Linked DNA regions of Homo sapiens: region 1 is linked to region 2. The links come from fine-mapping of genetic effects on gene expression. A gene starts in region 2. The other region holds a variant in brackets. All regions are shown on one strand. Distances are from middle to middle. Region 1 overlaps KLHL26 (kelch like family member 26). Region 2 holds the start of KLHL26 (kelch like family member 26).

What was found.
Region 1: its variant is fine-mapped to the expression of KLHL26 in cerebellum (GTEx, PIP above 0.99).

Annotation. Positions count from the first base shown.
Region 1 is chr19:18,669,899-18,672,799 of GRCh38, forward strand. KLHL26 (kelch like family member 26) reads left to right here. Exons shown (of 3, transcript NM_018316.3): 3 at 1-1,823. Among named protein-coding and RNA genes, the nearest start is that of CRTC1, 12 kb to the right of the region's middle. RefSeq lists an enhancer at 2,481-2,901. The variant C/T (reference allele first, on the strand shown) is at 1,489.
Region 2 is chr19:18,635,796-18,638,696 of GRCh38, forward strand. KLHL26 (kelch like family member 26) reads left to right here and starts at 1,233. Exons shown (of 3, transcript NM_018316.3): 1 at 1,233-1,342. The coding sequence starts at 1,260. RefSeq lists silencers at 378-567, 608-687, 698-857, 908-1,417 and enhancers at 904-1,198, 1,157-1,671, 1,672-2,186.

The DNA of each region.
Region 1 (2,901 bases), 34 kb after region 2:
TTCCGGAGGAAAAACCATATCAACTCCTAGAAACGCTCCTTAGGGGCTTGGGACCTTCCATTTGGCACTGAGCATCTTGTGGGGCCTTAACTGGCTGAGACATCCCGGCCCTCTACATTTGCCCTGTTGGCCAGGCAGTCCCCTTCCCGCAATTGGAGGGCGACGCTAACTTCAGAATCCCATAGTGGCGCTTGCCGCAGGTCTGGTGGGGTGTCTTTTTTCTCCTCCCTCCTTTCCACCCCTCCGCGCCCTGCCACTCCCTGGCCTGCCCTGTTTTTGGGTCAACATTGCTACGGAGCCAGCAGTGAGGCCTTTCCCTTCAAGGGCTCTGTGGTATCTCTGGCCACATTTGTTCTAATGTCTGAACCTCTAAATCTTTTCTTTTTGATTGGTTTTACTGTTTTTAAGAAGCCAGCACTGCTGTCTCATAGATGGGATTTGTACTCTTGGGGCAACTTAAAGTGTCTCTCTCGCTGCTAACAGACGATTGATGTCTTGTCTCTGTGACCCACTCACCATGTAAAGAATTAACCTCCTATCTTAGCAGACATCGTCTCCTAATATTTCCCTTTATTTAATAAAAATGTTATGGTGAAGAGATGGAGCCGGCCCAGCACTGAGCTTGTGCGGCTTGGGTCTGATTGGTCACAGATTCCTCGTGTGTCCTCCGCGTGTCTGGGGGCTCCTCTCCCCCGCCTCAACCTTTTCCAGCCTTTCAGAGGAGTCGGCAGTGGGCTGGGCTTTGGCTCAGGGGCGCAGAGGCAGCAGGAAGCGTGGCCAGGACTTTCACCCTGGCGTTTTTTGTTGTTGGTTTTTTTGTTTTTTTGAGACGGAGCCTCGCTCTGTCACCCAGGCTGGAGTGCAGTGGCGTGATCTCGGCTCACTGCAACCTCTGCCTCCTGGGTTCAAGCAATTCACCTGCCTCAGCCTCCCAAGTAGCCAGGATTACAGACGCAGACACACACCACCACACCCGGCTAATTTTTGTATTTTTAGTACAGACGGGGTTTCACCATGTTGGCCAGGCTGGCCTTGAACTCTTGACCTCAGGTGATCCACCTGCCTCTGCCTCCCAAAGTGCTGGGATTACAGGTGTGAGCCACCATGCCCGGACCAACCTTGGCACTTTGGAAGAGCCTTCAGCCCCCTATTCTCATCATGGCCGGCCAAACTATGAACTGGGCTGCCCAGAGCAGGCCACTTATCAGTTGCAGGTTAGCAGAGAAAGCCTGATGTTCCCGGACGGCCTTCCCAGAAGGGAGGCCCTGGGATATCACACACACATGGATCTCCATAAGTTGCTGTGCCTGCATGCCTGGCGCTCCTGTGTGGCAGCCATCGGGGCTGGGGTAACACTAGAGGCTGAGGGGGTGGGCAGTGCTAAAATAGGAACATGGTTGGGAACCTAAAAGAAGCCCACACTGTCAGGGGCATCGAGACAAAAGCCGAGTTCCCTGGGGACTTACCAGAACATTCCAGCCCCACCCC[C/T]GACCTGAGCTCCCCCAAAGAGAACCCTTCCCCACTGGAGGCATGGCCCCTTCAGGGGAGCAGTGAGAAGCTTTGCCAGCTGCAAGTCCCCTGGATCAGCTCACACCTCAGAACATCTTGTCCCCAGTGAGCTGGCAGGGGCGCCGGCCCAGGGCGGGGGGCGCTGCTGTATCTAACCGGATCGATTGTGCATAACCGTCTAGGCCGGTTCGTGGAATGTTCGTGGGGCCCCCTGCCCCTCCCTCAGCCTCCCCCCGCATCCCCCCAAGAAAGGAAAATTATTTTTCGTATTGTAAACTTTAAACATGAAAAAGCTGTTTTTAATTTAGCAGAAACTGGCTTGAATCTTCACTTTGTGAACGTTTGTGTCCTTCAGAGGCAGAATATGCCTGCGCACACTCGCACATGCTCATGCACACACCTGCACACGCATGCCGCAACACGCACATTCACATGGCCGTGCTCGTGCACGCCTGCACACGCATGCTTGCCCATACCCACGCATTGCAGCGCGTTCACACGCTCACCCGCACACAGTGAAACACAAGCTCACACATATGCACACACACACATATCTGTGCATGCACCCCTGGACCAGCGTAGCCCAATCTGCCTGGCGGCCCAAAGGGGTCTGGAGCCCGGCACCGCCCCGAGCCTGGGGGAAGCCTGTCTACTTCCAGATGCCCTGCCTACTCGCTGAGGCCTGGACGCCGGCTGCAGGAGCCTCCCTTGCACCTGGGCTCAGGCTGTGGGAAAACGCTGTCTCTCGGGACGGTCAGATGCAGGCCCGCAAGAGGGAGGCCAAGTGCGACTTCTGGGGCCTCTCAGCAAGTGAGGGCCAAGGGGGCCTCTGGGGAGCCGTGTGAGGTGGGAATCCGCCCCGGACCTGGCCAGCTTGGAAACCTGCCCCTGGCTCTGTCTCCGAGGAAGCAGCTCCAGCTCGTCCGTTCTCACGGGCCCTGGAGATTCACTTTGCACGGTGCAGCCTCGGACCCTGCTCTTCCTCGGGGCGCCTGACCGTGGATCTCAGCGGCCTGGCGCCTAACACAGAGCCTGGCACCGACGGAGCATAGCTCGAATGTTTGCTGCACAAAGGAGAGGTGCTGGGGCGGGAAGGTGAGGGCAGCCTTCTTCACACTAGTGGCCGTGGGCACCTTCTGTGTGCAAACCCCGGGGAAAGGAGGGCACCAAGCCGTGCTCCACCCCCAGCAAGGCCCCTGCTTTGTTCTCGTCTTCCTGTCGCTCTCATTCTGGTGGCCAGCCGGGCAGCCATTCCTCCCTCCTCACCATCAGATCCCTGATTTGGTGCCAGCAGCAACGTGCCCAGCCTCTGGGGTTAAGATTCAGCTGAGCCGTTCTTGGCAATGCCTTTTGCCGGGGTTGTTTGTAATCTGGGCGTGTTTCCCAGCTCTG
Region 2 (2,901 bases):
ATGGGAGATAATTGGATGTGCAGGGTTTTAGAGTATGAGAAACCAGAATTGGTGTATGAAGCAGGTGGTGGGAACCTAAGGCCAGATGATTGGGGTCTCAGGGTGGAGGCTCTGAAGAGGGTATGTCAGGGGAGGGTGGGGAACCATGAGGGGCTGGAAGTCTGAGGCCTGGGCATGGGTGAGTTTCGCCCCTGAGAGAGGCCTGGGAAGGAGGTAAGACTGGAGTCGGGGTGTGCAGGGTGGGGAGAGGGAGGGTGTGGTTCTCAGAGCTTAGAGACCCATTTCTCCATGCTCCATCTCACCCTCCCTCCCACCCTACCTATAACTCACTTCCCTGTGGCTCCAACGCCTCAAAGTATAACCACGCCCAGCCAACGCCCGGGGCACGCCTGCCAGCGCCCCAGGGCACTCACAGACACTCCTTAACACCTGCACGTGCCCCGCCCCTCCTCAGATCCGCCGCTCACTTAGCCCGGCCCCACCCCCATCAGATGAGGCTCCGCCCCCCCGGCCCCGCCAATCCCTCGCCCCCTCCACGCACACACCCCTGATCTTCCCCGCCCTCCTTCCAACCAGACTCCACCCCTCGCCCAGGCCCCGCCCTTCCTCAGACCAGGCCCTCTCTTCGCTTGACCACATCCATCCCCAGATTCCTCCTCTCTCCTGCCCAGACCCGCCCAACCTCAGACCCATCTTCTCCTTTCTACCTCCCCGACCACTCCCCCACCGCATTCCTAACCTCCACCTTGTCCCTTCTCACACCTGGCCCCGCCCTTTATCCTGCGCCCCGCCTCCTCCGCAGGCCGGACCCTTGTCCCTCCTCCTCTTGCCCTGGGCCTGCCCCTTCTTCAGACCCCGCCCCACTCCTCAGCCCAGGGACCAACCCCATCCTGCGCCTACTTGTCCTGCTTCGCCCCGTCCCCACCTATCCACAGACAATACGCCCTCTCAGCCCAGAACCGCTTCCCTTTCAGACTTGGTTCCGCCCCTCACGCCAGGGTCCCGCCCCAATCCGGCACCCCTAGCCCAGGCCCCGCCCTGGACCCACCTCTCTGCATAGCAGGCCCCTCCCTTTATCCCAGACCCGCCCCGGCCCTCCGTAGACCACGCCCCTCCGATTCCGGGCCCGCCCCAATCCTTGGTTTCTGGTCCCGGCCCCGCCCCTCCGCAGACCTGGCCCCGCCCCGCCCCCCGCGTCTCGGTTTCCCGGGCCTGCGCGCGCGGCTCCCGTCACTCGAACGCGCGACGGCGGGGGGAAGATGGCGGAGTCCGGCGGTAGCAGCGGTGGTGCTGGTGGCGGCGGCGCTTTCGGCGCGGGCCCGGGCCCCGAGCGCCCGAACAGGTGAGACCCGGCCCGCAGGATAGACCTGCACCTGTCTTGGAGCCCAGGAAACCTGTGGGCAGTCTTGGGCGTCCTGAGGGGTTGAGGGGAGGCCTGGCACGGCTCGAGGGTCTTTCGCTGAGAATTTGGACTTTACGGGGCCGTGGGGTACTGGAGGAGCCGAGGGCTACTGAGGGGGTGGCTGGAGGGGGGCTGGGTGCCCCAGGACCTCGAGGCGTCTGCAGGCGGCCCTAGGGACCTGAGAATCCTGGGGGTCTGAAGGGAAACCGAGGGGCTCTTGACTGTGGTGGGCCGTGGGGCAACTGGGGATGCCAAAGGGCCTGGGCAGCAGAGAGGGCCTGAGCAGGGGCCATGCCATGGCCAGTCTGAGGGTGGTGAGGTGTCTTGGGGGCTCTGAGGAAGGGGCTAAGGCCCAAGGCATCCTGGGAGGTGCTGAAGGGCCCCAAGGTGGCTAAAGGTGGTCCTGAGAGCGTGCTGAGGGGCGCTGGAAGGAGTAGAGACTGTGGGAGGCTCTGGGTGGGGGACTTAGGTGAATCTGGGAGTCTGAGATGGGGAGGCTGAGGGGGCCTGGGGTGGGTCTAGGGAACCTGAGGGGGGTGAGAGAACTCCAGGGGGTTTATAAAGAACATACAGAGGGTTCTTCTTTGGGGCTCCTCCCTTCCATCCCCATGGGGTCCAAATCCACATCCCCAACAGGCTAAAGGACTTACAGAAAGGTCTTGCCCTCAGACAAGGGGACAGAATTCACCCCTTTGGTCAGAGGGAGGCCCCCTTTCCCCATGGCCCAGTCCTGACATGGATTGCTTGAACGTCCAGGTTTGCATGACAATTAGTTATCATCAATAACTAATGATATGTGTGTGCATGCATTGTATTGGATTGTCAGAGGGAAAGAACACCTGCCTTAGGAGTGTGATCTCCTGCTCTTTTCCTATTGGGCAAAGCCAGACCCTCCCACCCCAGCTCCTCCTCTAGCCCAGCACCCAGGTCAGGCCAAGGAGGAAATTCAGGCTTTTTCTTGCTGGTGAGCTTCCAGGAGCCAGTAATTTCAGGCAACATGATAAATGATGAAGTTGTTTGATACTTACGTGCTGTGGAGTTTTGGACCTGTGGGCTGATTGTTGGAGGGAATGGCCTGATGGCCTGGCTGTGTGATTTGGTACTGAATGGAACACGCATGGGATGGGTGGGGAAGGGAGGAGGGATGGCTGGGCCAGGGCACAGAGGAGGCAAAGGCCCTGCCTGTTCCTGAGGATGCTGAGTGGCACCTTGAGACTTAGGTCTGTGGGCATTGAATCTGGTCTGCCAGAGGGGCCATGGGGAACCCAGGAGGTGTGTGTCCAGAGGGGTGACCAGCCTCCTGGGGTAGGTGTGGGGCAAGATTGTCCTGCAGTAGGGAGCCAGGAGATGTCAGAGGATTTTCAGAGATATTCAGGGAGTGGCCAGGGCTTGAAAATTGGGTATCAGTTGGCAAGTAAGGGACAGGGAAGAGGGACAGTGAACCCCAGGTCCCTGCCTTGGGCACTGGAGTGGGATAACCTGGGGCTAGGGCTTTTTTT